Homo sapiens: one gene and its partners. The protein of the gene in region 1 purifies or fractionates together with the protein of each later gene. This does not show direct contact. Each region holds a gene or a part of one and is shown in the gene's direction. Other genes may lie near its edges. The genes, in order: FAM174A, TBC1D23 and SPAG9.

The links.
Region 2: the proteins of FAM174A (region 1) and TBC1D23 purify together in Homo sapiens (co-immunoprecipitation; 2 studies listed by BioGRID and IntAct, with this or other methods). This does not show direct contact.
Region 3: the proteins of FAM174A (region 1) and SPAG9 purify together in Homo sapiens (co-immunoprecipitation; 3 studies listed by BioGRID and IntAct, with this or other methods). This does not show direct contact.

The regions. Positions count from the first base shown.
Region 1 is NC_000005.10:100,541,748-100,545,487, forward strand, and holds part of FAM174A (membrane protein FAM174A precursor), read left to right. Parts: intron 1-3,740.
Region 2 is NC_000003.12:100,319,792-100,322,904, forward strand, and holds part of TBC1D23 (TBC1 domain family member 23), read left to right. Parts: intron 1-985; coding exon 986-1,180; intron 1,181-3,113. UniProt on the Homo sapiens protein: Putative Rab GTPase-activating protein which plays a role in vesicular trafficking. Involved in endosome-to-Golgi trafficking.
Region 3 is NC_000017.11:50,991,869-50,995,368, reverse strand, and holds part of SPAG9 (C-Jun-amino-terminal kinase-interacting protein 4), read left to right. Parts: intron 1-144; coding exon 145-312; intron 313-1,433; coding exon 1,434-1,605; intron 1,606-3,500. UniProt on the Homo sapiens protein: The JNK-interacting protein (JIP) group of scaffold proteins selectively mediates JNK signaling by aggregating specific components of the MAPK cascade to form a functional JNK signaling module.

The DNA.
Region 1 (3,740 bases):
TTGTAGTCTGGCTTCTAATTCTACCACTCTAGAATTACTCATGCAGAAGATGGTTAATAAGCACATTGTCTCAGTTTCATGGATATTTTCCCCTTTTCTGTAGCACTCAGTGCACTGGTTCTTACTTTGACTTCTGAGACATCTCTTCTGATTTTCTTCTTACCTCCTTGAGTATTTCTTGCCTAGCTTCTTCATGAATTTCTTATTCCATGAACTCTTCTTCCTAATTAGGACTCTTCTACAAGCTAATGTCTGGAGAGCAGGGCCTCTGTCTTACTCATCTTTGGTCCCTAAAGGCCCAATCTGATTCCTAGAATACAACGAGATGCATTGAATTTTTGTGGAAGAGAATGACTTTCACCTCCCAACTGACAGTGTTTTCTGGGCCCTGCTTTCACTGTCCATGTTCCCTGGGTGATCCATCCAAAATTCATTTCCTTAATGGCCACCTCTAAGCTGTTAATTACTTTCTGAGTTACAGACATGTATAGCCAGCCAACTTCTTACGGGATAGATGATTCAGACTTGTTTTCAAGTTTAAGCTTGAAACAGTATTTTTATCCCTGGACAAATCTTGCTGTACTCTCTTTATAAGGAGAATAACACCATCATCTACACAGTTTCTCAAACTAGAAACCTAAGTCATCCCATGTCTCTCTTTTGCTTACCATTCACATACAGTCATCCAATTTCAATTGCTAAATATTTCTTGACTATATTGCTGCTTTATGAGCTCAATTGACCTTACATTAGTTTAGGTTCACATCACTAGATTATTGTGCTATTGTTTCTAACTTTTCTCCACTTCACCTGTCTCTCTTTCAATTTACCTTCAACACTGAACAGATGGTGTTCCCTCTGAGATGTAAATCTATCATACTATGTGTGTGCTTATAATCCTTTATTGCTACACTGTCCAATATGGTAGCCAGTAGGTACAGGTGGCTATTTAAAAACTTATGTTACCTGGGCACAGTGGCTTACGTTTGTAATCCCAGCACTTTGGGAGGCCAAGGTGGGAGGATCTCTTGAGTCCAGGAGTTTGAGACCAGCTTGGGCAATATAGTGAGATCCTGCTTATTATATTTATATATATATATGTGTGTGTGTGTGTGTGTATAATATTCACACACATGTGTAGGGGGTATATGTGTGTGTGTATATATATGTGTGTGTGTAATATATATGTATATACACATACTGGGTATAGCAGTGCAGGCCTGTAAGTTCCAGCTGTTTGGGAGGCTGAAGTGGGAGGATCACTCAAACCTAGGATATTAAGACTGCAGTGTGTGATGATCACACTACTGCACTCCACCTTTCATGACAGAGCAAGACCTTGTCTCAAACAAAGTTAATGAAAAATAAAATGTAAAATTCCAGTCCATTAGATATACTAGCTGCATTTCTTTTATTTATTTAGAGACAAGGTCTGGCTCAGCTCACTGCAACCTCTGCCTCCCGGGCTCAAGCCATCCTCCCACCTCAGCCTCCCAAGTAGGTGGGACTACAGGCGCACGCCACCACACCCAGCTATTTATTGTATTTTTTATAGAAATTTGGTTTTGCCATGTTGCCTAAGCTGGTCTCGAACTCTTGAGCTCAAGTGATCTGCCTGCCTTGGCCTCCTAAAGTGCTGGGATTACAGGTGTGAGCCACTTCACCCGCCAACTAGCCACATTTTGAGGGCTAAATAATCACATGTTGTTAGTGGCAACTGTATTGGACAGAACAATGCAGAATATGTCCATCACTGCAGAAAGTTCTATTGGGTAGCACAATTCTATGGCATTTCATGGGATCAATGTTCATACTCTTTAGTATTTAATTAGCTCCTTAATCAGATTTTTTGGTGTTTTTGACATGGAGTCTCCCTCTGTCACCCAGGCTGGAGGGGAGTGGCACAGTCTTAGCTCACTGCAACCTCCACCTCATGGATTCAGACGATTCTCCTGCCTCAGCCTCCCCGAGTGGCTGGGACTACCGGCCATCATTTTTTATTTTATCTTGTCTTCCAGTCTCTAGTGAACTATATTTTTATGCAAGTACATTTTTCAAGGATGGAATTCTTTGCATTCTTTCTTTATTCTCTTGTTTAACTCCTGGTTGTCTTTGAAGATGAAATGGAACATGTACTCTACTGGGAAATCTCTGTGATTCCAGACCATTTTGAGAATACCTGTGTTATGACATTATTTCCAGGGGACTATAATAGGTGGTTCTGTTTCTGTCTTCTTTTCTACACTGTTTGCTTTTTATACCTTATTTAGAAAATAGTAGATTTTCACGTTTTCTGAATTAATATCAAAAGGAAATAAGAAATAATGTATCAGGCTGGGCATGGTGGCTTATGCCTGTAATCCCAGCATTTTGGGATTCTGAGGCAGGCAAACTGCTTGAATCCAGGGGTTGAGACCAGCCTGGGCAATATAGTGAGACTTCATCCCTACTAAAATGAAAAAAAGAAAAAATTAGCTAGTTGTGGTGACCTGTGGCCCCAGCTACTCAAGAAACTGAAGTGAATCACTGGAGTCCAGGAAGTCAAGGTCGTACCCCTGCATTTGTACCCCTGCATCCCGGAAACAGTTGAGGCCAAGGTCATACCCCTGCATTTGTACCCCTGCATTTGTACTCCTGCATCCTCAAACAGATGAGATCCTGGAGAGAGAGAGAGAGAGAGAGAGAGATCGAGAGACAGAGAGAGAAGGAGAGGAGAGAGAGGGGGAAAAGAGGAGAAAGAAAGATAAAGGAAAAGAATAAAAAAGAAATAATGTATGTGAAATCAAAACATGTAAATGAAGATTAAAAATGTGAGGTAGCTGTGTGAGAGTGGTGTTAACATCAATCCTGCAATAATGTAGTCATTTTAACTCATTTCAATTCCATACTGGAGCCTCATGATATATGCTTGTGCAGAGAAGTCAGTTTTTTTAACAGGTGTATATTTGCATGTATTTACCCAAGATAATGTGCAGATTATTCACCAGTGTATATCTAACATGACTGCAGTCCTCAGGGTATTAGAGTACAACCAGAAAATGCATTCCTCTGTAATTGATAGAGGTTGAATGTGGGACAAAATGGAGAAACTAGATTGAGATGCTTCTGGTTAGTTATTGCAAAGTTTTTCTGAAAACAAAATCAATAGCATTTGAACATTACTATCAACTGGTAGCAATGCTCAGGTGGTATCTACCAATACACTCTACCAGTGTTTCTGGACCCATTGCTACAGCAAGCGTCTATTCTGACTAGATGGTCCTTATGCCCTGCCAGTTGTTAAATAGCTAAATATCTTGAGTATCACCTCTACTCCTACACTTCAAAGTTCCTGAGTTCTTTTGTCATGATCTCCAGTGCCCATTGTAGTATTTCTCTTCTATATTATTGCATTTGATTCTAATTTTATCTTTGGTGAAGACTACATTTAAAAAATTACTTAGGTTTGATCTTTTCTAAAATATGAGAAATATGGTAAAATGTTGAAATTGGGTTGAAAGATATGTTGGTAATTTGCATTGTTCAGTATGATATAAAACATATCTAGAGAAATACTTAAATCATAAATTGAGAATCTTATAGTAATTGAAGTTACTTTCTTAAGAAATCAGGTTTTCCTTGGCGTTTTTGGATAGATTTTTATTGCTATATTCTTTAATAATCCTTTTTTTTTCTGGAAGAAGAAAGTGGTATAGAGTTGAAAATTCATAGAACATGAAGATATTGACTGTTGTGAGATT
Region 2 (3,113 bases), on another chromosome or scaffold:
TATACATATGCATGTATATGTACATTTTTGTCAAACCTTTCAAAAGAAGTCTACAAATGTGACACTTCATCCCTAAATGCTTCAGCATAAACTTCCCAAGTATATGAGCATTCTCCTGCACAACTTCAATGCCATTACCCCACCTAAAAATTTTTGTAAATTAACATCATTTAACATACAGATCATACCCCAAATTTTCAGTGTCCCCAAAGTATCTTTTGTAGTGTGTTTTTTCTTTGGTGATCCATGATCCAGTTCATGGTTTACACATTGCATTGTCTGTTATGTGTCTTTAGTCTCACCCTGTGTACAGCAGAACTCATCCCCCCACCCCCTCGCTTCCCTTTTCTCTTCATGATGAATGAATCCTTTGAGTCCAGGTCAATCATCCTACAGAATGTTCCACATTCTGCACTTGTCTGATAACTGTCGTATTGTATTACTGTACATAAAAAATGTGAGAGTATTATATTAAAAAGAAGCTGAGATACAGGGGTTGGGTGAGTGTTAATAATACTATGCTCATTTTGCCTTCAGGATCCAGTTACAGAATGTTTACAAAATATGTAGGGAAACCCAACAATTGCCTAGTGATCTTGGATATTAGATATAGGATATGGTGCATTGAATGAGAATAGTTTATGAATATAGGTAATAGCGTTAAAAAATCTGAAACGTAATATACTCCATTTCAATAAAAAATATATTATTGTAGTGATTTCTATGTTGTATGGAACTTTTTATTATATTTATTATATTTTCAATCATTGCAGGATTATCTGTTAATAAAATATTAATTTTGCATACAATTAAAAGGTGTTAATGTGTAGCTTACTTGTTTATAGATTAACCTCTGTTTATATCTTTTAACTCAATTTTATTTAGAGTTGAACATTTCTAATAATTGAGATGGTTGAAACAACACCTGTTTTGAATTAAATTTACTTAAAAATTCTTTTTCTTTTAATGCTTTTTTTGTCTCAAGTCATCTGTTGGTTACTGCAACACATATGTACTGTTTAAGGGAGATTGTTTCACGGAAAGGATTGGCTTATATACAGTCTCGACAAGCGCTGAATTCTGTAGTTAAAATTACATCCAAAAAAAAACATCCTGAACTCATTACCTTCAAGTATGGAAATAGCAGTGCTTCAGGAATAGAAATCTTGGCAATCGAAAGGTAAGATTTTCCTTAAGATAATATTATCTGAATTCAGATATTATCTGAATTACTGTAGTTCACTATAAAGAGTTTGTTTCTTTATTTTGGGGAATGGATGGTGGAATAGGATAGCTGAACCACTTTTAGTGTTTCTTATCTCTTTCTCCGGAGTCCTTAGTCATGTGTGGTTTAGCCATTAGCACATGATTTGAGTAAGTGCCATAGCTAATTTCATAAAGTTTCTGACCCAAGGATCCTTATTGTTAATCTGTACCAGTGCTGCACTAATTGCTGGCTTGCAGAGAAATAAGAAACTTGTTTTAGAATATGTTGATATTTTTATTTTCCTTCATCGAAAAATTCTTGTTTTGACAAACTGTCAGTGAACTAAGCAGTGTGCTGGGTGATATAGGTAATTTACAGCCTGGTACAAGCCCCCCTTTGTCTCATTGTGGGTCACTAACAGTTCACAGACTGGCCCAAGAGCTGTGGACCACACTGATATTGATACTAAACCATTTTTTAATTATAGATAAAAATATGAAGCCCAGAGGGGTGGAATGACTTCCCAGATCCTAACACTTAGTTTGTGACAGAACCAAATATAGCCTTCCTGACTCCTGATTTGTGGTTTATTATACCTTGCATCAGTTCAAGTTGTTCCCCCACTGGGATTTAGGATTACACTTATTATTTACAGGAGTGCTTGGATAAATAGTAAGCTTAAGGTTATATCGCAGCACTTTTAAATAATCAACTTCAGTTGGAAGAGGAAATTATTCAGCTTCTTTCATCTTGTACTGACAATTAGGTAGCAAACATCATGAATCTATACTGTTTTATGTAATTTGTTAAAAGAAAATAATACCTGATTTGTAAAAAAAAAAAAAATCACTTCATTGCTTTATGTAAGAATAAATATTTACATAGTGATATTTTCAATTAATAATATAAAGAATATGTCATTCTAATTCTCTGTTAACACATTGATGTGTATCTTCTCAGATTTTTTTTAATGCATATGTTATTTCTCTACTAAAAACTAGATAAATGTGATATAGGCTTGTTTTTGTGTTCTGATTTTTTAAGAAAATAGTATAGTGTGAATATACTTACATTTTAATAAATATAAATTTTTTAAAATTAATTAATTAATTTTTTTGAGACGGAGTCTCTGTCACTCAGGCTAGAGTGCAGTGTTGCAATCACGGCTCACTGTAAGCTCCGCCTCCCAGGTTCACACCATTCTCCCTGCCTCAGCCTACCGAGTAGCTGGGACTAGAGGCGCCCGCCACCATGCCCAGCTAATTTTTTTATTTTTAGTAGAGATGGGGTTTCACCGTGTTAGCCAGGATGGTCTCCATCTCCTGACCTCGTGATCCACCCACCTTGGCCTCCCAAAGTGCTGAGATTACAGGAGTGAGCCACCGTGCCCGGCCCAATAAATATAAATTCTTAGCTTTTTAATGGTAGATATTCTGTTATAAGGATTTCTCAGGAGATTGATTTAACAAGCCTCATGTTGATTGGCATTTACATTGTTTTCATGTGTTTCACTATTAATCTTCTAGTGGGCCTTTAAAAACATGTATGTTTACATAGTTGTCCAATTAGTCTTCTCAGGATAAATTCCTGCAAGTAGATTCAATGGGTGAGAGGTATACACATTTTAATATCTACTTATAAATTAATCCTAACCAAAGGAGATTTGAATTATGACTCTCTCATGTATAGTAAAAGTTGGGAATTGTGTTTTAAAGGCTTTCCCACAAATTTTGCTAAATAAATTGAAGTTTATTATATATGGATCAACATCTTTTTTTTTTTAATTCAGAGTTTTGGAAGATAGTCTTAATAGTGGAAGATAAAGTAACTAGATTCTCTCTCTCCCTTTCTTCATTGATATTTATGGTTCTCTATTCTGCCTCGCATATAACACTCATAGATGATT
Region 3 (3,500 bases), on another chromosome or scaffold:
AGTATTACTTCTATGGTGAGGTTATTGTTCATTTTATAATATTAGGTTATAAGACCTGTATTTACAACCATTAGTTATTTTAAGAAAACATGAAAATGCTAAACATTTCTAGACTTAATATTGTTTTCTTTTTCACCTGAGAAGCTGTGGTGTGCTGTTGGAGTCAATTTATCTGGTGGGAAGACCAGAGATGGTGGTTCTGTTGTTGGAGCAAGTGTATTTTACAAGGATGTTGCTGGTTTGGATACAGAAGGCAGTAAACAGCGAAGTGCCTCTCAGAGTAGTTTAGATAAGTTAGATCAGGAACTTAAGGTAAGTGTGTGTACTAACATTTGACCTGGTTTATGAGACTATGAGTTTAACTCTTTCATCCAAAATTTGCCTCTGGGTCCAGCTTCTAATTGGGATTACTATGCCCTGGCTTACTGTCCCTCAGCACCCTTTTAAAATCAATTTTAAAATATTGAGGTATAATTTACATGCAATAAAGTGTGCACTCGAAATGGGTATAGGTCAGAGTTTTGACACATGTGTACACGTATGTAATCACTACAGTGATCAAGCTAATGGAACATTTTATCATTGTTCTGCTTTACCTGTTAGTTTTGTGTTGCTGTTTAGAGACAGAGTCTCACTCTATCACATAGGCTGGAGTGCAGTGGCATGATCATGGCTCACTGCAGTGTTAACCTCCTGGACTCAAGTGATCTGTCCACTTCAGCCACCCAAGTAGCTGGGACTACACACCCACACCACCACACCTGGCTAATTTTATTTTTTGTAGAGACGAGGGTTTCACTGTGTTGACCAGGCTAGTCTCACACTTCTGGCCTCAAGCAGTCCTCCCACCTCAGCCTCCCAAAGTGCTGGGATTACAGACGTGAGCCACTGTGCCAGCCTAACTGCTAGTTTTTCATCTACTAATTAATATTGATAGGTGGTTGTATTAGTCTATATTCACACTGCTGATAAACACATACCCGAGACTGGGAAGGAAAAAAGAGGTTTAATTGGGCTTACATAGGTAACCTCTGGGGAGGCCTCAGAATCATGACAGGAGATGAAAGGCACTTCTTACATGGTGGCAGCAAGAGAAAATGAGGAAGAAGCAAAAGTGTAAACCCCTAATAAACCCATCAGATCTCGTGAGACTTATTCACTATCACGAGAATAGCATGGGAAAGACTGGCCCCCATGATTAAATTACCTCCCCCTGGGTCCCTCTCACAACATGTGGGAATTCGGGGAGATACAATTCAAGTTGAGTTTTGGGTAGGGACGCAGCCAAACCACATCAGTGGTTGTATTTTTACCCTTCCAAATAATCTGGAAATAAATTTGAAATAGTATTGCCTTTTACTGTAACAGCACCACCTTATGAATATTTGTACATACATATTGTTTTAAACATTTTTCCTCCTTTGCCTATACAGGAACAGCAGAAGGAGTTAAAAAATCAAGAAGAATTATCCAGTCTAGTTTGGATCTGTACCAGCACTCATTCGGCTACAAAAGTTCTTATTATTGATGCTGTTCAACCTGGCAACATCCTAGACAGTTTCACTGTTTGCAACTCTCATGTTCTGTGCATTGCAAGTGTGCCAGGTAAGAGTGAGTCATGCGTTTCTCTGCCCTCCCCTCCATCCACCTACCTGCTGGGCACTGATGTAGCAGCTGAAGATGCAGTTCTGCACCTTGCTGTCATGAAGCTTATGTTCTAGTTAGGGAAGATTAAAAAACAAACTGGAAACCATTGAATAAAGAAGATATTTTCAGGTAGTGAAAAATACTGTGAAGAAAATAAAACAATGGGAATATGAGAAAATAACTGGGAGCCAGAGGACTGTTTGGATTAATTAATAAGGAAAGGTCTTCTAAAGTTTTGGATTAAACATTATGTGATGTTAAAACATTAGTTTAAAAATTAAAGAAGTGTATGTGATATATCCATATGTTGGAATATTATTCAGCCATAAAAAGGAATGAAGTTCTTTTTTATATTTTATTGTGGAATACTTAATATGAGTTCTACTTTTTTTTTTTTTTTTTTTTTGAGACAGAGTCTTACTCTGTCACCCAGGCTGGAGTGCAATGGCATGATCTCGGCTCACTGCAACCTCCACCTTCCAGGTTCAAGTGATTCTCCTGCCTCAGCCTCCCGAGTAGCTGGAATTACAGGCACCTGCCACCACGCCCGGCTAATTGTTTGCATTTTTACTAGAGACGGGGTTTTACCATGTTGGTCAGGCTAGTCTTTTTTTTTTTTTTTTTTTGAGATGGAGTCTTACTCTGTCACTCACACTGGAGTGCAGTGGCACCGTCTCGGCTTACTGCAACCTCTACCTCCTGGGTTCAAGTGATTCTTTTGCCTTAGCCTCCCAAGTAGCTGGGACTACAGGCACGAGCCACTACACCCGGCTAATTTTTGTATTTTTGGTAGAAATGGGGTGTCACCATATTGGCCAGGTTGGTCTCGAACTCCTAGACCTCGTGATCTGCCCGCCTCGGTCTCCCAAAGTGCTGAGATTACAGGTGTGACCCACCACCCCGGGCAGTCAGATTAGTCTTGAACTCCTGACCTCAGGTGATCCACCCGCTTCGTCCTCCCGAAGTACTGGGATTACAGGCATGAGCCACTGAACCCAGCCTGAGATCTACCCTCTTAACACATTTTTGTTTTTGTTTTTTTGAGACAGGGCCTCACTCTGTTGCCCAGGCTGGATTGCAGTGGTGCAGTCACAACTCATTGTACTCATTGCAGCCATGACCTTCCGGGCTCAAGTGATCCTCCCAGCTCAGCCTCCCAAGTAGCTGGGACCACAGGCGCACACTACCACACCTGGCTAAGTTGTTTGTACTTTTTGTAGGCAGGGTTTCACCATGTTGCCCAGGCTGGTCTGGAACTCCTGGGCTCAAGTGATCTGCCTGCCTTGGCCTCCCGAAGTATTGGGATGCCCAGCCCTCTTAACAAATTTTTAAGAGTACAATACATTATCCTCTAGGTAGAAGTTCTGACACATGTTATAACACAGATGAACCTTGGAAACACTATGCCAAAGGAAATAAGTCGGACACAAAAGGACAAATATTATATGATTCCGCTTATATGAGATATCTAGAATAGGCACATTCATAAAAACATAGAGTTTCTGTGTGAGGTGATGGAAAAGCTTTAGAAATAGGCCGGCCATGGAGGTTCACACTCATAATCCCAGCACTTTCAGAGGCCAAGGTGGGACGATCACTTGAGCCCAGAAGTTTGAGACCAGTCTGGGCAATATAGTGAGACCTCATTCCACAAAAAATCAAAAAATGAGGCGGGAGGATAACTTGAGTCGGGGAGGTCAAGACTGCAGTGAGCTACGATTGCACCACTACACACCCACCTGGGCAATGGGAGTAAGACCCTGTGTTTTAAAAAAAAAAAAAAAAAAAAAAAAAAAAAGACCTGGCATGGTGGCTTACACCTGTAATCCAGACACTTTGGGAGGCTGAGGTGG